4 linked regions of the Homo sapiens genome follow. The protein of the gene in region 3 interacts with the protein of the main gene of each other region in a pairwise test. Each region holds a gene or a part of one and is shown on either strand. Other genes may lie near its edges.

Evidence for each region.
Region 1: the proteins of LAMP2 (region 3) and CCNL1 interact in binary tests that used the Homo sapiens proteins (3 or more experiments, as listed by UniProt).
Region 2: the proteins of LAMP2 (region 3) and MRI1 interact in binary tests that used the Homo sapiens proteins (3 or more experiments, as listed by UniProt).
Region 4: the proteins of LAMP2 (region 3) and JADE3 interact in binary tests that used the Homo sapiens proteins (3 or more experiments, as listed by UniProt).

What each region holds. Positions count from the first base shown.
Region 1 is NC_000003.12:157,147,053-157,150,194, reverse strand, and holds the end of CCNL1 (cyclin-L1), read left to right. Parts: intron 1-25; coding exon 26-130; intron 131-217; coding exon 218-359; intron 360-598; coding exon 599-710; intron 711-809; coding exon 810-908; intron 909-1,605; coding exon 1,606-1,954; 3' UTR 1,955-2,642; downstream 2,643-3,142. UniProt on the Homo sapiens protein: Involved in pre-mRNA splicing. Functions in association with cyclin-dependent kinases (CDKs). Inhibited by the CDK-specific inhibitor CDKN1A/p21. May play a role in the regulation of RNA polymerase II (pol II).
Region 2 is NC_000019.10:13,760,429-13,767,545, forward strand, and holds the start of MRI1 (methylthioribose-1-phosphate isomerase), read left to right. Parts: upstream 1-4,093; 5' UTR 4,094-4,160; coding exon 4,161-4,292; intron 4,293-4,442; coding exon 4,443-4,681; intron 4,682-5,525; coding exon 5,526-5,701; intron 5,702-7,117. Other genes in the region: probable splicing factor YJU2B, read left to right, coding at 1,871-2,009, 2,162-2,640.
Region 3 is NC_000023.11:120,459,256-120,466,302, forward strand, and holds part of LAMP2 (lysosome-associated membrane glycoprotein 2 isoform A precursor), read right to left. Parts: intron 1-7,047. UniProt on the Homo sapiens protein: Lysosomal membrane glycoprotein which plays an important role in lysosome biogenesis, lysosomal pH regulation and autophagy.
Region 4 is NC_000023.11:47,048,402-47,055,448, reverse strand, and holds part of JADE3 (protein Jade-3), read right to left. Parts: intron 1,292-7,047; coding exon 821-1,291; intron 1-820. UniProt on the Homo sapiens protein: Scaffold subunit of some HBO1 complexes, which have a histone H4 acetyltransferase activity.

The sequences.
Region 1 (3,142 bases), on a different chromosome or scaffold from region 3:
AAAACATTCTGTTCTTATGGTTTAGATTCCGTTGCCAACTCGTCCCCATTGGTTTCTTCTTTTTGGTACTACAGAAGAGGAAATCCAGGAAATCTGCATAGAAACACTTAGGCTTTATACCAGAAAAAAGGTATTCTCTATTTACTCGTTTGTGCCAACATGCTAAGAGTCCAAGCTACTCTAAGGAAGAAATACTAACTTTTTTTTCCTCCAACAGCCAAACTATGAATTACTGGAAAAAGAAGTAGAAAAAAGAAAAGTAGCCTTACAAGAAGCCAAATTAAAAGCAAAGGGATTGAATCCGGATGGAACTCCAGCCCTTTCAACCCTGGGTGGATTTTCTCCAGCCTCCAAGCCATGTAAGATGTATTTAGAATTAAAATGACTTGGGGGCACTGAAAGTGTGTCTTTATTAGAGAGCTTTTACATTTGAAAGTTGCATAGAGAAAAATGATGTTAGGAAACTGCTGCTATGTTCTCTCATGGCAGTCAACCAACATGGAAGCGGAAGCATGGTACTTTGAGTTACATTTAGAAACAACTTTTGGCCCTCTGTTAAATCCAGTAGTTAACATGTTGTTATTATATCTTTTAAAAGCATCACCAAGAGAAGTAAAAGCTGAAGAGAAATCACCAATCTCCATTAATGTGAAGACAGTCAAAAAAGAACCTGAGGATAGACAACAGGCTTCCAAAAGCCCTTACAATGGGTGAGTATACTTGGGCTGGAAAACTGGCTTGAGGAATCTTTTATGTGTTTACTTTTTAACACACTAAGTTTGTAACTAATATGTCATGATTTTTTGAAGTGTAAGAAAAGACAGCAAGAGAAGTAGAAATAGCAGAAGTGCAAGTCGATCGAGGTCAAGAACACGATCACGTTCTAGATCACATACTCCAAGAAGACAGTAAGTAAATGTTTTCTTAGGGAAGCAGTCTTATTTGGAGTTTTTAAAGGTTATTGCTTTTTCTTTAAAAATTGAACATAGATTATTTTCAAAGTTAGGTTAGAATTAGGCTTTTAGTATGAGGCAAATTATGAGAAATGAGTTTGGAGATGTTCTGGACATACAGTATCTTAATGGCATTCTGTTATATTTTCTCCCATGTTTTTTGGAGAAGTGTAGGAGCTACCCACAAAGTGCTTGAGGGCCATAGTATTGTTCATAATGTGAAAACTTCTTTTTTTTTTTTTAATTTCAGTTAGAAAATGTGTTTCATTAACCCCTTATTAATAACCAATAATCAAATTAACCAGTCAATGAATCTTCTTTAGTTAGGCCTGTAATTAGATTGTTAGCTCTTCGTGGCTCTTCAATGTCTTTTGAACATGTGGGAGATACTTAATAAAAAGCATAGCTCTAGGACACTATAAAAATTGCTAATTACTCCCCTTGGAATAAAGACATAAGAACATTTGCTTAAGATTTAATATGTTATATATAGGCTTGGGCATACAGCAGTGAGGGGTGGGGAGATTTTGAAAAGTTCTGGTTTGTCATTTATGTAGCTGGTAGTTTTGTTTTGAACCTGTTATGAGCAACCACCGGAATAATCTGTTCCCCATAGAAACTGAACCTAAACTTCAAATTTTTATTATCTAAGCTATAATAATAGGCGGAGTCGATCTGGAACATACAGCTCGAGATCAAGAAGCAGGTCCCGCAGTCACAGTGAAAGCCCTCGAAGACATCATAATCATGGTTCTCCTCACCTTAAGGCCAAGCATACCAGAGATGATTTAAAAAGTTCAAACAGACATGGTCATAAAAGGAAAAAATCTCGTTCTCGATCTCAGAGCAAGTCTCGGGATCACTCAGATGCAGCCAAGAAACACAGGCATGAAAGGGGACATCATAGGGACAGGCGTGAACGATCTCGCTCCTTTGAGAGGTCCCATAAAAGCAAGCACCATGGTGGCAGTCGCTCAGGACATGGCAGGCACAGGCGCTGACTTTCTCTTCCTTTGAGCCTGCATCAGTTCTTGGTTTTGCCTATCTACAGTGTGATGTATGGACTCAATCAAAAACATTAAACGCAAACTGATTAGGATTTGATTTCTTGAAACCCTCTAGGTCTCTAGAACACTGAGGACAGTTTCTTTTGAAAAGAACTATGTTAATTTTTTTGCACATTAAAATGCCCTAGCAGTATCTAATTAAAAACCATGGTCAGGTTCAATTGTACTTTATTATAGTTGTGTATTGTTTATTGCTATAAGAACTGGAGCGTGAATTCTGTAAAAATGTATCTTATTTTTATACAGATAAAATTGCAGACACTGTTCTATTTAAGTGGTTATTTGTTTAAATGATGGTGAATACTTTCTTAACACTGGTTTGTCTGCATGTGTAAAGATTTTTACAAGGAAATAAAATACAAATCTTGTTTTTTCTAAACTGCTTCAAATACCTTATTTAAATAAATTATTAAAAAGGAAAATTTTAATAGCAAAATGGCTGTACTGGTTTTCTGACAAACTTATTCTTTCCTCCATTAGATGGTAGTTTGAGATTATTAAAATGCAATTCTTAACTGCATTGTGAGCTATTGTAAGTCTTCACTGTATATATGGAAAAAGTAAATGGGAGTCGCCCAACAATGTGACATTAAATGTTATATTTTAGCACTAAACCAAAAAACCTGATTTGCTTTTGAATGGTGTCATAAGGTAATTTTGAGTCAGATTTAAGTACTATTTCTGAAATGAGGTACCCTATTGAATGAACCAAAACTTAGTAACTATTGAGCTTTAACAGTTCTGTATAATTTAGGCATTTAATGTTACGATTTTTACGTAGGCTAGGAGAAAATGTGAGGCCCCTGAACTTGAGTGGTTGATAGAATACAAGCTGATCACAAAGAAGTGAAGTTTTGATGAAAAAGCCGGAATTTCTATCCAGATGAATGTTTTCAAGTTACTCACATTTACTATTTTTTTCAACATTTTGGAAATCAGTTTACAGAGTCAAAATGTTGCATCGCTTTATAATTACACTAAGGTCTCCATTACATTTATTTTACCTACTTTAATTGTCCACTAGACTTGGCTCCAAGTGATTTGTTGCTGTTTCAAGAAATAAAATACACCCACAAAGAGGAAGATGTATTACTGCTAAGGATATTTTTAAAAATAAAGTTA
Region 2 (7,117 bases), on a different chromosome or scaffold from region 3:
TTCTGACTTAATTACTTCCCCAAATGCCTCACATCTTTTAACACTGTCAACGTTGAGGATTAAGCTTCAACATATCAATTTGGGGGACACAGACATTGAGACCATAGCTCACCCCTACCTCACCATGCCATGGGAGATACCTACCTGGTTGCCTCCTTTTATTTATTTATTTTTTTTCTTTTTGTGACTGGGTCTCACTCTGTTGCCCAGGCTGGAGTACAGCGGCAAATCATGTCTCACTGCAGCCTCGATGTCCCAGGTTCAAGCAATCCTCCCCACTAAGCCTCCCAAGTAGCTGGGACCCACAGGCATGAGCCATCACACCTGGCTAATGTTGGGTTTTTTGTGTTTTGTTTTTGCTTAGACTGAGTCTCGCTCGTCGCCCATGCTGCAGTGCAGTGGCATGATCCCGGCTCACTGAAGCCTCCACCCCAGGTTCAAGCAATTCTCCTGCCTCAGCCTCCCAAGTAGCTGGGATTCCAGGTTCCCACCACTGTGCATGGCTAATTTTTGTATTTTTAGTAGAGACTGGGTATCACCATGTTGGCCAGGCTGGTCTCGAAATCCTGGCCTCATGTGATCCACCCACCTCAACCTCCCAAAGTGCTAGGATTACAGGCGTGAGCCACTGCATCTGACCTGGCCACCACATTTTAAATGGAACCTCTTGGCTGGGCGCGGTGGCTCACATCTGTAATCCCAGCACTTTGGGAGGCTGAGGCAGGCGGATCACGAGGTCAGGAGATCGAGACCATCCTGGCTAACATGGTGAAACCCCGTCTCTACTAAAAATGCAAAAAAAAATTAGCCAGGTGTGGTGGCGGGTGCCTGTAGTCCCAGCTACTTGGGAGGCTGAGGCAAGAGAATGGCGTGAACCTGGGAGGTGGAGTTTGCAGTGAGCTGAGATCGTGCCACTGCACTCCAGCCTGGCCGACAGAGCAAGACTCTTGTCTCAAAAAAATATAGAATTAAACTAAATTAAAAAATAAATGGAACCGCCCAGCCCATCCCCTACCCACCTGTCCTGCATTTTTTTTCTCCTTATCACTGTCTCACCACTAGAGGCCAGCTCCACCAGGGCAAGGGTTTTTCCCTGCCTGCCACTGTATGCCGAGTGTCCAGAACAAAGCCTAGCACAAGGTGGGTATCCCAGAAATATTTGTGGGATGAGGCCGTGCGTGGTGGCTCACACCTGTAATCCCAGTGCTTTGGGAGGCTCAGGTGGGAGGATTGTTTGAGGCCATGAGTTGGAGACCAGCCTGGGCAACATAGTGAGACCCCATCTCTACAAAAAAAAATTTTTTTTTTTTTTTGAAACAGTCTCCCCCCTTTCGCCCTGGCTGGAGTGCAGTGACAACGATCTCAGCCCACCGCAACCTCCACCTCCCCGGTTGAAGTGATTTTCATGCCTCAGCCTCCCAAGTAGCTAGGACCATAGGCGCATGCCACCATGCCTGGCTAATTTTTATATTTTTAATAGAGACAGGATTTTGCCTTGATGGCCAAGCTGGTCTCAAACTACTGGCCTCAAGGGATCCACCCGCCTCAGCCTCCCAAAGTGCTGGGATTACAGACATGAACTACCAGGCCCAGTCTCTACAAAAATAAATGTTTTAATTAGCTGGGCGTGGTGGTGCACATCTGTAGTACTGGATACTTGGGAGGCTGACATGAGAGAATCGCTTGAGCCCAGGAGTTCGAGGCTGCAGTGAGCTATGATTGTGCCACTGCACTCCAGTCTGGGCGACAGAATGAAACTGTCTCAAAAAGAGTAAATGAGACCCCGAGAGTTGGAGCAGTGCCCCCTAGTACACAGAAGAGACAGGGCTTTGACACCCCCTATCTCTGGTGTTCTTGGCCCTCAACACAGGAAAAGAAAAAAGCCATCCAGGAGGAGGAGGAGAGAGACCAGGCCTTGCAGGCCAAGGCGAGCCTGACCATCCCGCTGGTGCCCGAGACGGAAGATGACCGCAAGCTGGCGGCTCTGCTGAAGTTCCACACCCTGGACTGTGCGTAGGAGGCCAGGGGGAAAAGGGGACAGGGAGGCTCAGAGTTGCCTGGAGATGGGGGGTCCTCAGCCATGAGTGGACTCTGGTCTACCAGAGGGCAGTTCTGGACCCCCTCCCCTGCCGCCCCTGAAATGTCCTCTCCTCTCCTCTAGCCTACGAGGACAAGCAGAAACTCAAGCGGACCGAGATCATCAGCCGCTCCTGGTTCCCCTCTGCCCCCGGATCCGCCTCCAGCAGCAAGGTCAGCGGCGTCCTGAAGAAGCTGGCACAGAGCCGCAGAACCGCGCTTGCCACCTCCCCCATCACCGTCGGGGACCTGGGCATCGTGCGGCGGAGGTCTCGGGACGTCCCGGAGAGCCCCCAGCATGCGGCCGACACCCCCAAGTCTGGGGAACCGCGGGTACCAGAGGAGGCTGCCCAGGACCGGCCCATGTCCCCCGGAGACTGTCCTCCGGAAACAACTGAGACCCCCAAGTGCAGCAGCCCGAGGGGGCAGGAAGGGAGCCGTCAGGACAAGCCCCTGTCGCCAGCAGGCTCCTCCCAGGAGGCAGCTGACACCCCCGACACGCGGCACCCCTGCAGTCTCGGCTCCTCCCTCGTGGCGGACTACTCCGACTCGGAGAGTGAGTGAGCGATCCCCATCCTGGAGACTGGACCCGCTCTAGAGGCCCGGACACACCCAGGAGGCCCCTCACAGACTGCAGACCCCCGGCTCGCCCACCAGCCCTGGGAGAGCTCAGATGCCGCATCCTCCCCAGACCGCGCCTTCCTGCAACCGTGGAGTTATTTATTTGGTCCTGGTGAGGGTGTTTGTGCCTTGTGAGACTCCGTACATTAAAGACCTGTCTCTTCTTCCCTGTCTTGGGTTGTTAGATGGACCCTGGGGCTGCCCCCCCACCCCCCCACCTTGACCAAGCTTGGTAGGCCTCTCATCAGCAAATGCTGGTATAGGGTCATAGCTGTGACCACAGACATGGTCCCCTTCCAGAGTAACAAGAGTCTCAAGGTGGTGGTCCCGGTTGGCCAGGAATCAGGACAGACTTCCTGGAGGAGGAGGCATGGGCCAAGTGTGAAGGGTGAAAAGGGGGCCAGGAACCACACACACAAGGCCAGGGACAAGGCACACGGGGTACCCAGGATGTGTGCCAGATGCAGCAGGGGCTGGAGCACACAGGTGTGAGCTTTTTATTATACCCAGCCCAGGGGTGGCCCATGGAAAAGCCCCCCGTGCATGTTACTTTTGGGGTTTTTTTGTTTTGTTTTTGAGACCGAGTCTTGCTCTGTCACCCAGGCTGGAGTGCAGTGGCGCGATCTCGGCTCACTGCAACCTCTGCCTCCTGGGTTCAAGTGATTCTTCTGCCTCAGCCTCCCGAGCAGCTGGGACTACGGGTGTGCGCCACCACGCCCAGCTAATTTTTTGTATTTTTAGTAGAGACTGGGTTTCACCATGTTGGCCAGGCTGGTCTCGAACTCCTGACCTCAAGTGATCTGCCCGACTCGGCCTCCCAAAATGCTGGGATTCCAGGCGTGAGCCACAGCGCCTGTCCTGCATGTTACTTTTGAATGAAACCGAGCAGAAAATGGCCCAGAAACAGCCTTGCATCCATCAAGGGGCACACGACCCCCCACTACCTCCCCCTCAACCTTGGAAGATCATTTAACAAATTCTTTGGTTTGAACACTTGATGTTACCTTGCCACTGGGGATACATCCCTAACTCTAGACAGCAGGTTGTTAAACACGGGGCCTGGTATCCACTAGGCGTCCCATAAATGCTGCCACTTTTGTGGTTCCGAGGAGGCGGCTCACTCCGTTCGGGCTTGGCAGGAGTCGTGGAGTGGGTTCGGCCACGTGGAATCCGCGTCCTGGGAACCCGTGGAATCCGCGTCCTGGGAACCCGTGGAATCCGCCTCCTGGGAACCCGTGGAATCCGCCTCCTGGGAACCCGTGGAATCCGCCTCCTGGGAACCCGTGGAATCCGCCTCCTGGGAACCCGTGGAATCCGCCTCCTGGGAACCCGTGGAATCGGGTTGGATGCGCATGTGCGTGTCTCTTTTTCCGGGGGAGGCTCCGCCCACGGCCCCGCCCCGCTCCCAAGTGCGCGCGGACCCCTAGCTCCCTCTGAGTTGCGCTGGGCTTGGCTGCTGCACCATGACCCTGGAGGCGATCCGCTACTCGCGGGGCTCCCTGCAGATCCTAGACCAGCTGCTGCTGCCCAAGCAGAGCCGCTACGAGGCGGTGGGCTCGGTGCACCAGGCCTGGGAGGCCATCCGCGCCATGAAGGTGCAGCGGGGCGGCGGGGCGGCGGGGCGGCGGGGCGGCGGGGCGGCGGGGCGGCGGGGCGGCGGGGCGGCGGGGCGGCGGGGCGGCCGGGTTGGAGGTGGGAGTGCGCCCGCGCCTGCAGCTTCCGACGCCCAAATCCCTGCCCCGCAGGTGCGGGGCGCCCCGGCCATAGCCCTGGTGGGCTGTCTCAGCCTCGCCGTGGAGCTGCAGGCGGGCGCCGGGGGACCGGGACTCGCCGCGCTCGTGGCCTTCGTGCGCGACAAGCTGAGCTTCCTCGTCACCGCCCGGCCCACCGCTGTCAACATGGCCCGCGCCGCCCGCGACCTGGCTGATGTTGCAGCCCGGGAGGCCGAACGGGAGGGCGCTACGGAAGAGGCGGTCCGGGAGAGGTACGGGGATCTGGTACCAGGCACGGCGCTGAGCAGGAATTATATTGACTCTTTTTAAGTACAGTGACCCACTATACAGATGGGGAAACTGAGGCACGGCGACCTTAAGTCCCTTGTCCAGGGCCCCACAGATGGGGAGACTGAGGCACGGCGACCTTAAGTCCCTTGTCCAGGGCCCCACAGATGGGGCCCAGAGTCTAGCCTGGGCAGCCTGGCCCTGAAACCTAACTCCTTAATCGTGCCTCCCCTGAATACACGCAGCCCCTTATCCGCCCTTGGAGGCCCTTTTTAGTATCTCCGTGTTCTCTTGGTTTCTGCTTTTGAGGAACTTTTTTTCCTGTCCTGGTCCCCTTCCTGCCATCTTTTTCCCCCCACTTCCTTTCTGCTCCAGCCCTCCCTGCAATGTCACTTTACCCCACCAAGCTCGAGCCTGCCTTACAGCCTTTGCACGTGCCATTGGTGCGGGCCAGGTATCCATAGCGCCCTCCTCCACCATTCTATATGATCCAGCTCACCCGCTGCTCTCTGTTGCCTGATTCTGCCGGCTTTTCCTTCATTTTATTATCTCTTCATCAGCTGGCTCACTCACCCCAGTGTCAACTCCACAGGAGCAGAGATTTTTGTCTTGTTTACTGCTGGGTCATACCGGAACTGCTTGGTAAACATGTCTTTGCATGAATGAACGGAGTGACACTTCGGTGGCCCTGGCCGAAGGGTCCAGGCCCCACAGCAATGAGAGGCTTTGAGCAGGAGGGCTCCAGGACAGCAGCGTTAGGCAGAGAGGAGGCGTTGGCCTGGGCCCCGGGTCCTGGTGGCTGGTGCTGAAAACTCCTTGTCACCCCAGAGTGATCTGCTGCACCGAGGACATGCTGGAGAAAGACCTCAGAGACAACCGAAGCATTGGGGACCTAGGAGCCCGCCACCTCCTGGAGCGGGTGGCCCCCAGCGGTGGCAAGGTGACTGTGCTGACCCACTGTAACACTGGTGCTCTGGCCACCGCTGGCTATGGTACAGCCCTAGGTGAGAGGGCCTCCTCAGGGGGTAGGGGAGGGCCTTCTAGGAACTTTTTTAGATACAAGAGAAAGAATCCCAAACCCAAACCACTTTATCCACAAAAAAAATGGGAAGGTACTAGTTCTAGTACGGAAACACTTATACAGTTGGCTTCAGGTATGGCAAGATCAAGGGGCTCAACCAGTAGCATCAGGACCTATCTATCTCTGTGCTTCAGCTCTGCCCTCCTTCATCTTCAGGTTCCATGGGCTGGCAGGCGGCTGTTAGGGTCCAAATCATGAGGAAAAGAGCCTCCTATACTAGAAAAGTCTCCTTGTATCTCAGGGGGTCCACTAGGGCACCTGCCCATCCCAGAGCAGTCATTCGATGGGCCCCGCCTGAGCCATATGCCTAGAGCCAGGGCAGGACGTGGACTCCAGGAGGAACTGGGGAGAAGGGAGTGAGCAGAGAAAGATTAGGTAGCTGTGACCAGGAGACAGGGGGAGTGGGCTGTAGGGGGCCAAGGCAGCAGATTCCACTTGACCCTAAATTCACCAGGAAATTTCCCTACCTGCCTGAGTCCCACCTTCATCCCTGGGAACTGAGGCCTTAATGGAAAGACCTCTGCCTTTGATTCATTCACTCACCCAGCATTTAGTAAGCACCTGCTGTGGCTCAGACACCGCCATTTGCTGGGGACGCAGCAGTGAACAAAACAGACAAAATCTCTGCTCTCAGGGGTCCCAGGGAAGCAGAAGGAACAGTCAACAGGCAAAATAAGTACAGTCATCCTTCAATATCTGTGGGGGACTGGTTCCAGGACCTCCCACAGATACCAAAATCCATGGATGCTCAAGTCTCTGATATAAAAATGCCATCATATTTGCATGACCTATGCACATCCACATATATATATATATATATATATATATATATTTTTTTTTTTTTTTTTTTTTTTTTTTTTGAGACAGAGTCTTGCTCTGTCGCCCAGGCTGGTGCAGTGGCATGATCTCAGCTTACTACAACCTCTGCTTCCCGGGTTCAAGAGATTCTCATGCCTCAGCCTCCTGAGTGTCTGGGATTATAGGCGTGAGCCACTACGCCCAGCTAATTTTTATATTTTTAGTAGGGACGGGGTTTCACGACATTGGCCAGGCTGGTCTCGAACTTCTGACCTTAGGCGGTCCGCCAGCCTCGGCCTCCCAAAGTGCTGGGATTACAGACGTAAGCCACAGTGCCCAGCCCACCCCTATATTTTAAATCGTGTCTAGATTGCATATCATAGCTAGTCCCATGTAAATACTATGTAAATTGTTGTTACTGGCTAGGTGTAGTGGCGGTGCAGGCCTGTAATCAGGAGGCTGGGGTGGGAGGATTGCTTGAACTCAGAAGTTCTAGACCAGCCTTTGCAACACAGCAAGACCCTGTCTCTATTTTTAAGCC
Region 3 (7,047 bases):
AAATCTGAAACACCCCTTGTCCCCTTGTTACAATTTCTGGCAGAAATCACCACCCACTATAAAAGCTGAAAACACTGGATACTTGCTTTCCCAGACTCCCTTGCAGTAAGGAGGACCACTTGTGCTAGGCTCTGCCTAACAAAGGTATCCACCCCACACTTTGAAAGGAGGGCTGCAAATGGAGCCAGGAATGGAACAGGGAGGGAGACAGGTGTGGAGTAACAGAAGCAGGATCAAGCTCCCAGGCAACAAGGCCAGCAGAGCAAGCTTCAATTTCACACTTGGCAGTGGTAGTGCAGTTCAGCAGCATGATCTGGGTTGTTGAATCCTGAACTGGGATTTGGTATATATAGCCAGGAGCACCAGAAATTCTGAGTTACCCAATATACCCCTTTAATAAACATTTGATATGTAACATATGTACAGAAACAGGCACAGTATAACAGATGTAAGGGAAAAGTGCACGTAACATTAAGTCTACAGCTCAAATAATTTCACAAACCAAAACCACCTGTGTCAAGAAACAGAACATTAACAGGTGTTGACCCACTGCACAGTTGAAAATCTGCATATTATTTTTGACTCCCCCAAAACTTAACTACTAATATCCTACTGTTGACTGGAAGCATTACCAACAACATAAACAGTCGATTCACACATATTTTGTATGTTATATATGTGTTACATACTGTGTTTTGAAAATAAAGCTAGAGAAAAGAAAATGTTAAGAAAATCATAAGGAGGGCTGGGCATGGTGGCTCACACCTATAATCCCAGCACTTTGGGAGGCTGAGGCAGACGGATCACTTGAGGTCAGGAGTTCGAGACCAGCCTGGCCAACATGGTGAAACCCCATCTCCACTAAAAATTTGCTGGGCTTGGTGGTGGTCACCTATAATCCTAGCTACTTGGGAGGCTGAGGCAGGAGAATCGCTTGAACCTGTGAGGTAGAGGTTGCAGTGAGCTGAGATCGCGCCACTGCACTCCAGCCTGGGCAACAGATAGAGACTCCGTCTCAAAAAAAAAAAATCATAACGAGGAGGAGGAAGAGGAGGGGTTGGTCTTGCTGTCTTCAGGGTGGTAGAGGTGAAATAAACTCATGTATAAGTAGATCCACACACAGTTCAAACTTGTGTTGTTCAAGGGTCAACTACACTTCCAAAGCCCTCCTTATTTCCCTTTCCCTTCCCAAGGGTTACTATTCCCTTCCCAAGGGTAACCATTATCCTGATTTCTGACACTATAGATTAATTTTATCCATTTTTCAACTTGATATAAATAAAATCATTCACTATGCTCTCTTTTGTGTCTGCTTTCTTTCCTCAATTTTAGGTTTTGTGAGATTCACCCATGTTATGCATAATTGCAGTCTGTGCTCACTGCTGTATAACCTTCTATGATCAGGTGAATACAGGCCAGGTGGGGTGGTTCACGCCTGTAATCCCAGCACTTTGGGAGGCCAAGGAGGGTGGATCACTTGAGGTCAGGAGTTCGAGACCAGCCTGGCCACCATGGCCAAATCCCACCTCTACTGAAAATATAAAAATTAGCTGGGCATGGTGGCACATGCCTGTAATCTCAGCTACTCAGGAGGCTGATACAGGAGAATCGTTTGAACCCGGGAGGCAGAGGTTGCAGTGAGCCAAGATCATGCCAATGCACTCCACCAGCCTGGGCAACAAGAATGAAACTCTGTCTCAAAAAAAAACAAAAACAAACAAACAAAAAAACTACTTATCTATGCTACCTTTAATGGGCATTTAGTTTCCAGTGTGATTCTATTACAAACACTGCTGCAAACATTCTTGCACATATTAGTAAACACATGTATGCGTGTATGTTGGCTGTATATCTAGGAATGAAACTGTGGGGCCAAAGGGTATGCATTATATCCCAGTTCTTTTTAATAAATTCTTTTCTGCTTAAAATCAATCAGATTGTATTTCTCTTCCTTGCAATTAAGAACCTGGGCTGATATGCTATCTGTTTTTTCAGTAGCCATTTTCTCCACAAAGCTTTCCCTGACTATAAAAGCCCTCAAGGAGCAGTAATAATGCACATCCCATTTCAGTATATTTTACATTATCCTGAATTATTCAGTTATTTTATAGCAGTAAATCCTGTCCCTCCTACTGTCATAAGCTCCAACACAGCAGTTTTCAACTGTCACTTCATAACAAACTGGTGTGCCATGGTAAATTATAGTATACAGTAAGTAATTTGTTACTAATAAAAAAAGTACCAAGTCTGTGAATGAATGATATATATGGATAGATTCAAGATTCCCTTTAGATAACATTTCTGTCACTCGTTTGAACTCCAGTATGCTCCCTTGATCAGATGATCTGATGTATCCCACAACCCCTAGCAGTGTGTCTTTTATATGAATGTCATCTATCATGAGTGTCATGGTAGGGGACACCATGTGTATTACTTTTCCTCTATCTCCTATCATTCCAAGTAGTGCTGAATGCATATTAGATTTTCAATAAATACTGATTAATTATATCAAGGTGAAAACACACTGCAATAGGGACCCAAAACATAGCTTAATCTAATTACAGAGAGGCCAGTCCTTTAGCTCTTCCAAATCTTGAACATATCAGTCTTCTGGATATTCCCTCAAACCCCATGTTGGGTTTCACTTCAATAAATTTTGACATGGATGTCAAGCTAGGAACAGAGCTTTTCCCAAAAGGTAAGTTTACAGTTGAAATATTTACACTTTATTAAAAAGTATCTAGCAAGCAATTTCCATCCTTATTGCTGTGTTTGATTTTACAATACCCAATTTTTAAAAGGCTTTATGACATTAAAAAACCATAGATGAATATATTCTAGAGTGTGTAATTTTAGAGCTGAGAGTTTATTCTCTAAATAAAAGAAAAAGGTATGCCTCAAAATCAACCGTTCTCAAAGTCAAATATCCTCTCAATCCTGTTTTCCAAAAAGGTCATTTGTAAATTCTTTTAGAATGCAGACCTTGACCGGGCAGTGGCTCACACCAGTAATCCTAGCACTTTGGGAGGCCAAGGGGGGCAGATCACTTGAGCTCAAGAGTTCAAGACCAGCCTGGGCAACATGGCAAGACCCCATCTATACTAAAAATACAAAAGAATAGCTGGGTGTGATGGTGCATGCCTGTGGTCTCAACTACTCGGGAGGCTGACATGGGAGGATCGCTTGAGCCCATGAGGCAGAGGTTGCAGTGAGCCAAGATCACTCCACTGCACTCCAGCTGGGGGAATGGAACAAGACCCTGTCAAAAAAAAAAAAAAAAACCTCTCACAGAGAACACAGACCTTACTTCCCCAAGTGTATGACACTGCAAAAAGTGGCTAGGTTTTTGCAAGTCTATTTGACCCAAAGTATAGCTGAAAACATAAACACACAAAATTAGGGGTGGGGGAAGAACATAATGCTAGCAATAAAACAAAACCAATAAAAAGAAACCAAACAATGATCCAAGATACAATGGATTGATTATATAATGAAGTGATTAAGAGTCCCCATTCCTGGAGTGGAAGAGCTAGAACTCAAATCTGGCAGTCCAACTTCCTAGCTGTGAGACTTTGGGCAAGTTACCCTTGTTTAGAATTATAGTGCATATTTCTCCAATAGGTTCTTTGAAAGCATATAAACCCTTCAGAGCTAAAAGAAATTTGCCAAACAAGTTAGATACCAATTTACAAGTCTCCTTTTTAGTAAACACAGCACCTAAAGGGAACCTTCCCAAGTTTTAGCTTTATGTTTACTTTCATCATATTAAATTCTGGACTCTTGTCCTCAAACTCATGAATTTAGAATGATGTTGAGCAAAAGGTCTTTTTAAAATACAGGACACAGAGGCATACGGTACCTATTTATCTTTGTTTTCTATTCAGAGTGATGGTTTTCCTACAAGTTTAAGTCAGATTAACTGTTTCTCCTTTATAATTCCTAATAATAGGTACACTCATTGCATTCAGTTACTTTATACCCTTGCTTTTGGTAAGTTTCTTAAAGGAGAAAAGCAATATGATTTTAAAGTAAGAATGTTGAACACATGAAAAAGAGTATTAAAAGTTAATAAAAATATGTTTTTAAGCTATAAAATGACTTAATTTGTTAAGGCCAAAGAGTGGGTAAGGAAACAAGATTCAACACTACTCAACTAATGGAAAGTGCTTATTGTTGAGCAGTGTTTGGCACACCTCCAGAATTCTTTCACAATGCACAGCAGGATACCAACAAGTACTTATAAAGTATACTTTTGGGTCTGAGGGGATCTCTGATCACTTTAATAAGAAATTATGATCAGAATACTTTTGCACTACAGAAAGAAGAGCAGCCTTCCTGCATCAAGGGTCATTTAAATCAGCTCCAGTGCTACGAAATAATGCTTGGTTATAGACAAAATCTACCCAAAGATATAGGGGAAGAAAGCTGTTCTTTTGGGACATATTTGAGTATCTATAACCCTATCAGATGTGACAATCTGATATTTGGGACATATTTGAATATCTATAACCCTATCAGATATGATAATCAATGACTAACAAACTAATCTGGTATTTGGGACATATTTGAATATCTATAACCCTATCAGATGTGATAATCAATGACTAACAAACTAACAAGCCTGTCCTTTCTTATCTTCTAGCTTGACTTCTGTTTTTCGTTTTTTTTTTGTTTTTTTTTAGGGTTCAGAATTTTTCAGTCCTTTACAGTATCTCTATTATAACTAGAATAATTTGGCAGAACCTCGAAATCAAAGTTATCAGTTAAATGAAATGTGTTAAGCCTATAGAAAAATCTTAGTGCTTGTTTTCTCTCAGAGAAAACCTAACTTTGTGAAAACCTAACTCTCCTCACCAAGGAACTCCTAATTCTCCATATTACCCCCTTCGAGACTACGGAGGTATATCTGAAGGAGTACAGGTAAGAAACTAGCATTATTATATGGGATTATACATTAGTAAATTACTGTATAATTATCCGTACTGCTTAGCACTGATCTTGAAGTTTTCAATCCAAAAGAACTTCTTGCAAAACATCATTTAAAATTCATGGAAGAAAAAGGAGACTAAATGAGTCTAGTTTACCACCATATCCCTAGTGCCCACCAATGAATATCTTCAACAAAAATTCACTACGGGTTAACCATGTACCAGACCCTATGCTAGGTAGGCAATGGGAAGTAACAGTACATAAGATCGTCTCTGCTCTTAGAGACTGCTACCATAGGAGAGACTTGACTAAAACTAGGGGGAAACAAAAAAGCGTGGAAAATAGGCTAGTAACCTAAGATTTTGCAAATGATAAGATTTATTCCTATTTCCCCAGATGGTCACATGGCTGGCCTCCTGCCAACACCCAGGTCTCTGCCCAAATGTCACCCGATAACGGAAGGCCCTCTGACCACATAATATAAAGAAGGATCATCCACCATCACCCATTCCTATCATCTACTCATTCTCCTTTCTCATTACCTGTGTAATTTTCTTCATAGTGTTTTTGTTTTGTTTTGTTTTGAGACAGAGTTTTGCTCTTGTCCCCCAGGCTGGAGGACAGTGGCATGATCTCGGCTCACTGCAACTTCCACCTCCTGGATTCAAGCAATTCTCCTGCCTCAGCCTCCCGAGTAGCTGGGACTACAGGTGCTGGCCACCATGCCCTTGTATTTTTAGTAGAGATGGGGTTTCACCATGTTGGCTAGGCTGGTCTCGAACTCCTGACCTCAGGTGATTTGCCCACCTTGACCTCCCAAAGTGCTGGGATTACAGGCGTGAGCCACCATGCCCGGCCTCTTCATAGTGTTTATCACTATCTGACATTATATTATTTATCTGTTGAGCTTTCTTCTCCCATTAAAATGTAAGCTCCATGAGAGCAGGAACCTCATCTGTCTTATCCATTCCTCTGTCCCTTTCACCTAATATAGTGGCTGGGACACAATAGGCATTCAGTAAACGTGTGGAAGGGAGAGGCTCCTACCAGTAACATACACTAAGAATATTTCTGTGAGGTTTTTCCCACCCAGAAAAGCCTCAAACCTAAAAAAAAAAAATTCTGAACCCTAAAAAAACAAACAAACAAACCAAAAAACAGAAGTCAAGCTAGTTATAAGAATCAATAACCACAGAAGAATCCTGAAATCTATGATATCACAAAAGGACCATAATTAGGCAATTATATAAAGAAAGGATTTTCACCCACTATCCACTTTATAACACCTCTAAATCATATAGCTTCTCTTCGGAAAGTTGTCTGGTCAGTTACAATTCATCCAAATAAACACCAGCATAATTTAATCTCTATGAAAAAGACCAATATATAGCCTCTAAGAATCCTTTTCTGTACTTATTCTAAAGCTGCTGTTTTTAAAAGGTTATGGGTGAAGCTGGGATAGAGTTATAAAGTTACAAAGTCAAACTGGCACAGCTAGAGCACTAATGCTAATAAGACTATAAATTTAGGACAGGTCCTCCTTCATTGGCACTCCGTACAGTACCCAGGCACAGTTCTAGCTACATAGTAGGTACTTTACAAATATTTATTGATTTAGCTACATATTAGGTACTTTACAAATATTTATTAAGTTTTCAAAAACCTATTATTGGTATCCATTTTGATATAGAAAAGTAACTTGTGCAAAACCCACCAAGCAACTGCTAAATTCTTGACAGAAAAAGCTATATGGGAGGACTTTGGGCTCCACACTGAACCAAGAGCCATCAGAAAATGCAGCTGTATAGAAAAATGGTTTCTATTTCATCCTGGAACCTCTTAAAAATCAGATCTAGGTACATTATTAATATTTACTTTTCCAAATCCTGCTCTGAACTTGGAGGCGGAGGGAATCAATCTTGGAAATTTTCCAAGAGGAAGAATCTAGTTAGTCCTGATCAATAAATGGCAAACTAGCAGATGAGCTGATGGGTTCTTTTATGTGCTTCTTTTTGCATGTTTATTTTCTGCAGTGAGTAAGCATTGCTTTTGTAAAAACAAAACAAAAAAGCTTTCATTAAAAAACAAAAAAAAATTTAATGACATGAAAGCCAACAA
Region 4 (7,047 bases), about 73 Mb from region 3:
TTGGCAATAATAGTAATAGTAGGTGCTATATGTGAGTGTCTTAAATTTTTAAAAGTGAGCCAAATCTATTAGTTCTCTTTCAAATTCTGGTAGCAGAGAAAAAAAAACACAAGCCATTTATAGATTTACATTTAATTAGAAAATTCTCTAGGATAAACACAGGGCTTAACTTACCTTTGAAGCCCTGCAGTATCTCATTTAGTAGATACCTGATAAATATACCATGAGTTATATTGAATTATCATGTGGAGTGGCTCTCAACTGGAGAGCAAATTTGGTAATTTGCAGACATTTTTGGTTGTCACGCTGGGGGTGTGTGTGCGGGTGCTACTGGCATCTAGTGGGTAGAGGCCAGGGATGCTGGTAAACATCTTAAATTGCCCCTACAACAAAGGACAGCCCCCTAACAACAAACAACTATCCAGTCCAAAATGTCAACAGTGCCAAGTTTGTGAAACTCTAATTTGGTGTTTTCCTGAACAAAATTCACTCTTTCTTCAGCCTAAAGTCTCATAAATATGTCAGTAAAATATGGATGGGCCAATTTAGGCTCAACAGTGAATAAAAAGTAAACCAAATGAGAGTTTATTTCAAATGTAAAGTTCATAGAGCATATACCCGAGGCCTCCCAAATCCCCTGGATGTGCCTGTCAGAATTTACACAGAGCCCAATGTCTGGGGCCATAAAGAGATCAGAAGATAAGCAAGGACACAGAAGCCCACACTATTATGAGCTGACTGACCATTATTAAACCAGAAGTGGGACCTCCATTTCTACACAGACCGAGGCCTATATACTAGTCACAGCTGGTCACCTTACCCTCTCCAGGTCCTGGCGTAGATGCATAAACATTCTCATTCGAGTGTGAATGCTTTCCTCTTTTGGCTGCACCAGCCCATTTTCTTCATCCTCCTTTGGAGGAAATAATGGCTTATTGAAGTTACTTTTCCGCTTCAGTTTCCAGTAGTTATAGATAAAGTCCACAGCTAGCGTGGGCATACCCAGCTCTGCGGCCACATCTTCCACTCGTACCAAGGAATAGAACTCCTCCTCCAGCTCCCGAAGCTTCTGTGCCCGCAGGCTGGTTTTCTCACTTTTGGCCTGGCTCTGCTCTTTAGCCCTGTGGTGGGGGTACTCAGCTTCTCCAAGTTTCTGCCTGTTTTGGCTATGCTTGAGGCAATATGACTTGAACTTCACTTCGTCTCCCTCATCTAGGATGGTCTTCATCTCTAGGCCGTGCTCAAAGGCACAGGTGACGTGGAAGGCAGTGATGCAGCTTTTTATAGAGCACTGTAGGAAGAAAATAGGTGTCAAGGTAGCAGAGTTGGAGGAAAAGGGAGAGACCTATGTTTCTGGACCTAAATTGATAGCTTGTAGGAAGCAAAAGAAAGACCGGGAGAAAGTTAGTCCTAAACTGACCATAACAGATGCTTTACAAGTAACCCAAGAAACCTGTTCTTACAGAAAACAGCAAACACAGAGGCCAAAAATAATTCAAACACTCCTTTTGAGGTTTCAGCTCAAGCATTCAAGCATCAAGTTTTCTGAGATGCTTTCCTGGGCTCCTGTAAACAGTCATGTAGTCTCTTCTCTGTGTCTCCCACATCACCCTATGAATGCTTTTAAAATGGTACTTTTCACACTGTACCTATAACAATTGTCAAGTCCTTAGGGATAGATCTTAAAAACAGAAGCTGTGTCTTTCATTTTGCATCGTCATTAACTATTGAAGAAGCAGTTGCTCAGAAAATGTTTCTAAACAAACAAAAGAAAACACACAAAGTGAGTATTATTGCTAGAGCATCCACTGGTTCTAAAAAAGTCATAGGAATTCCAATATCTAAGTAACCTAACTTCTTGAATTTTTTTTTTAAACATAAAAATTTTAGGCCAGAGCACAGTGGCTTACGCCTGTGATCCCAGCACTTTGGGAGGCCAAGGCAGGTGGATCACTTGAGGCCAGGAGTTCGAGACCAGCTTGGGCAACATGGCGAAACCCTGTCTCTACTAAAAATACAAAAGCTTTCTGGGCATGGTGGTGCATGTCTGTAGTCCCAGCTACTTGGGAGGCTGAGGCATGAGAATTGCCTGAACCCGGGAGGTCCAAGCTGCAGTGAGCCGAGATCACACCAATGTACTCCAGCCTGGGCAACAGAGTGAGAACCTATCTCAAAAAGAATTTTTTAAAATATTTAAAAATAGAGAATCTATGTTGCTCAGGCTGGTCTTGAACTCCTGGGCTCAAGTGATCCACCAGCCTCAGCCTCCTAAAGCGTTGGGATTACAGGTGTGAGCCACCATGCCCCGTGAAATTGTTGTTATAGAACTGAGCTGTCCAACTTGGTGGCCAAGTAGCCATGAGTGGCTATTTCATTTTTTAAAAAAATTTTTTTAGACGGTGTCTCACTTTGTCACCCAGGCTGGAGTGCAGTGGTGCAATCTCGGCTCACTGCAACCTCTGCCTCCCAGGTTCAAGCAATTCTCCTGCCTCAGCCTCCCGAGTAGCTGGGATTACAGGCATGTGCCACCATGCCCGGCTAATTTTTGTATTTTTAGTAGAGATGGGGTTTCACTATGTTGGTCAGGCTGGTCTCAAACTCCTGACCTCAAGTGATTTGACTGCCTTAGCCTCCCAAAGTGCTGGGATTACAGGTGTGAGCCACTGCGCTTAGCCTTAAATTTAATTAAAATTATGTATAATTAAAAAATTTAGTTTCTCAGTCACAGTAGCCACATTTTAACTACACTAGACAGCACAGACATAAAACATTTCCATCACTGTGGAAAGTTTTTTTTTTTTTTTTTTTTTTTTTTGAGACAGAGTCTCACTCTGTTGCTGAGGCTGGAGGGCAGTGGCACAATCTCGGCTCATTGCAACCTCCACCTCCAGGGTTCAAGTGATTCTCCTGCCTCAGCCTCCCAAGTAGCTGGGACTACACGTGCCTGCCACCACACCTGGCTAATTTTTTTGTATTTTTGGTAGAGACAGGGTTTCACTATGTTGGCCAGCCTGGTCTCGAATGCTTGGCCTCAGGTGATCCGCCCGCCTCAGCATGCCAAAGTGCTGGGATTACAGGTGTGAGCCACTGTGCCTGGCCCACTGTGGAAAGTTCTATTGAACAATATGGTTACAGACAATCTGAAATTAAGTTTATAATATTCTGCCATTCAGTCATAGATTTAACACATTTATTAAGCATTACTATGCAGTATGTACTGACTATTCATAGGGGGGGGCAAAGGGGGAAGGACCTGGCCCATGACTACTATACTCCTGTGCTTCAGTTAGCCTTAATTACTATTTGTTATGGTTACAATGTTACAGCTTTCCTTCCAAAGACTGACTGATTGATTGAGACTGGGTCTCACTCTGTTGCCCAGGCTGGAGTGCAGTGGCGCGATTTTGGCTCGCTGCAACCTCTGCCTCCCAGGCTCAAGTGATCCTCCCACCTTAGCCTTGTGAGTAGCTGGGATTATAGGCGTGCGCCACCAAGTCCTGCTAATTTTTGTATTTTAGTAGAGACGGGGTTTCACCAATTAGCCAGGCTGGTCTCAAACTCCTGACCTCAAATGATCTGCCCACCTCGGCCTCCCAAAGTGCTGGGATTACAGGCATAAGCCACTGTGCCAGGCCTAATTTTTTTTTTTTGGGAGACAGAGTCTCACTCTGTTGCCCAGGCTGGAGTGCAGTGGCGTGATCTCGGCTCACTGTAACCTCTGCCTCCTGGGTTCAATCGATTCTCTTGCCTCAGCCTCCCGAGTAGCTGGGACTACAGGTGTGCACCACCATGCCTGGCTAATTTTTGTATTTATAGTAGAGACGGGGTTTCACCATGTTGGCCAGGCTGGTCTGGTCTTGAACTCCTGGCCTCAAGTTATCCGCCCACCTTGGCCTCCCAAAGTGCTGGGATTACAGGCATGAGCCACTGCACCCTGCTGCCCAAAGATTTAAAATGCATGAGTGCATCTATGTGTTTATGTAGAGGAAGTGGGGAAAGTAAGGGAAGATTCGTTTCTAAGGAAATATTGGGAATTCTTATGGTTAAAGCCAAGTGTTAATTCTTACATATGAATAAAGACAAAAAGAATGCAAAGGCCCAATAGATCATCTTAGATTGAGAAATTCAACACCTAAGAGGATACTGGCAACTGTCAAAGTTTTAAAGGGGCATATTCCATATTTCATTTAAACTAATTTCATATGATAAAGAATTCCAGGGATGAAATATAATTCTAAGATCATCTAATCCAGCCTTACATTTATTATTGCTTGAATTTCCTCGAGAGTACCTGATTTTCTGCCTCCATCCCCCACTCTATACACCTCCCCCTCCACTTTCCAATTAAGTGGTAATCTAGCCACTTACTGAATTCTTCCAGATAAGAAGCTCCTAAGATGGTCCACCCCGGCTTTTAACACCACTATCAGAAAAGTTTGTTATATTACACTGAAGCCTCTCGAAAATGAGGATGATGAAAGTTCAAGATGTACTTTTACCTGGGTACCTTTTGTTATCACTTGGCTAAGAAACTAGTCAGACGTTTGAAAAACAAAGTAAAAGGTATTCTTTAGTAAAAGATTTAAAGTGTTGGGCACAGTACTCTTTTGCTGTTTAATAACTGTTAAAGATATGGGAAGAAAAAGCAAATGATTTTCTATTCAAGGGAATGAGTAAGTGACATCAAACTACTATTATTGGGAAGCTAAAAACAGATCTTCTCAGGTCAAATTTATAGAATGTTTATAGAATGTAGAGACAAATATAAACATAAATTACTCAAAATAAAAGATAATGCATAGGTAAGAATTGGGTACTTATATGAAAAATATAATACCTTTTAGGAAACTGCCATAAAATCCAACTCTTTTCAAAAAAAGGTAATTCTGTGGTATTTATAGCTGGAGATCTATATATTTTGGTGGTGAAAAATGCTGGTCAATGGGTACGAAGTTATAATTGGGAGGAATAAGTTCTGGTGTTCCATTGCACAGGGTGACGACAGTTAACAGAAGGGTATTATATTTTACAAAATAGCTAGAAGAGAGGCTTTTGAATGTTCTCACCATAAACAAATGATAAACGCATGAGATGACAGATATGCTAAATATCCTGATTTGACTATACAACATATATAAAGACATCAAATTATACCCCACAAATATGTACAACTACAATGTGTTAATAAAAATTGCAATTTAAAAGATAAAACTTGGGCTGAGCATGGTGGCTCATGCCTATAATCCCAGCACCTTGGGAGGCTGAGGCAAGAGGATCGCTTGAGCTCAAAGGTTTGAGACCAGCCTGGGTAACATAGTGAGACCTCGTCTCTAATAAAAATAAAAAAACTAGCAGAGTGTGGTGGTGCACGCCTGTGGTACTCGGAAGGCTGAGGTGGGAGGATTACTTGAGCTCAGGAGGTCGAGGCTAAAAGGAGCCACGATTGTGCCACTGCACTCCAGCTAGACTGTAAAACAACAAAAAACGTACAATAATATTACCATTAAAAAAAAGAAGAAGAGTGCCGGGTGCAGTGACACACGCCTGTAATCCCAGCTACTTGGGAGGCTGAGGCAGGAGAATTGCTTGAACCCAGGAGGCAGAGGTTGCAGTGAGCCAAGATCGCGCCATTGCACTCCAGCCTGGACGACAGGGCGAGACTCCCTCTCAAAAAAAAAAAAAAAAAAAAAAAAGAAGAAGAAGAGCCAGGCGCAGTGGCTCACGCCTATAATCCCAGCACTTTGGGAGGCCAAGACGCAAGGACTGTTACAGTCCAGGAGTTCAAGACCAGCCTGGGAAACATGACGAAACCCTGTCTCTACAAAAAATACAAAAATTAGCTGGGTGTGGTGGTGCACACCTGTGGTCTCAGCTACTAGGGAGGCTGAGGTGGGAGCCTGGGAAGTTGAGGCTGCAGTGAGCCGTGATTGTGCCACTGCACTCCGGCCTGGGCGATAGGAGTGAGACCCTGAAAAAAAAAAAGGGTTGGGCGCGGTGGCTCACGCCTATAATCCCAGCATTTTGGGAGGCTGAGGCAGTTGGATCATGGGTCAGGAGTTCAAGACCAGCCTGGCCAAGATGGTGAAACCCCATCCCTACTAAAAATTACAGGCGGGCACCTGTAATCCCAGCTACTCAGGAGGCTGAGGCAGAGAATTGCTTGAACCTGGGAGGTGGAGGTTGCAGTGAGCCGAGATCGCGCCACTGCACTCCAGCCTGGGCGACAGAGCAAGACTCAGTCTCAGGGAAAAAAAAAAAAAAAAAAAAGAAGAAGAAAGGTGCCAGTCAGATACCAGATACCTATTTGTTTTCTTCTAAAACATATGTCTGGCGCATTCTATTAAACAAAATGCCTTTGCATACATCTCACTTATTTCCACTGTAACCACGGAAGGTGATAGAGAGGTTTTATTATGCCCATTTAAAAAATATTTTTATCTTTACAAATTTAAAATAAAAAATTGAGATAGCACTGTTCTCATTGTGGCAAGCAAATAGCACTTGTACAAAGCATCTTTTATACATGTGTCTTTAAACACTTTACTACGTGCATTACAGCATGGTCATTATATTCATTCACTGAAATGACAGAAATAGCTTTATTAAGATATATTTTATATACCATAAAGTTCACCAGTTTAATGTGTACATTTCAATGGTTTTCAATATATTTACAGTCATGCAACCATTGCCACTACCTAATCCCAGGATATTTTCATCACCACCAACCCCAAATCTTGTGTCCATTTGTAGTTACTCCCTGTTACCAACTCCAGCCCCAAGCAACTACTAATCTACTTTCTGTCTCTATTGATGTGCCTATTCTGGACATTTCATATAAGTGGAATTACAACAATATGTGGCTGTGTGAGTCTGGCTTCTTTCACTTAGCATGTTCTTCAGGTTCCTCTATGTTGTAGCATGTATTAGAACTTCATTCCTTTTTATGGGCAAAAAATAATTGTATGGATATACCCCATTTCATCGAGTTGATGGACATTTGGGTTGTTTTAACTTTTTGTCTGTTATGAAATAATGGTGCTATGA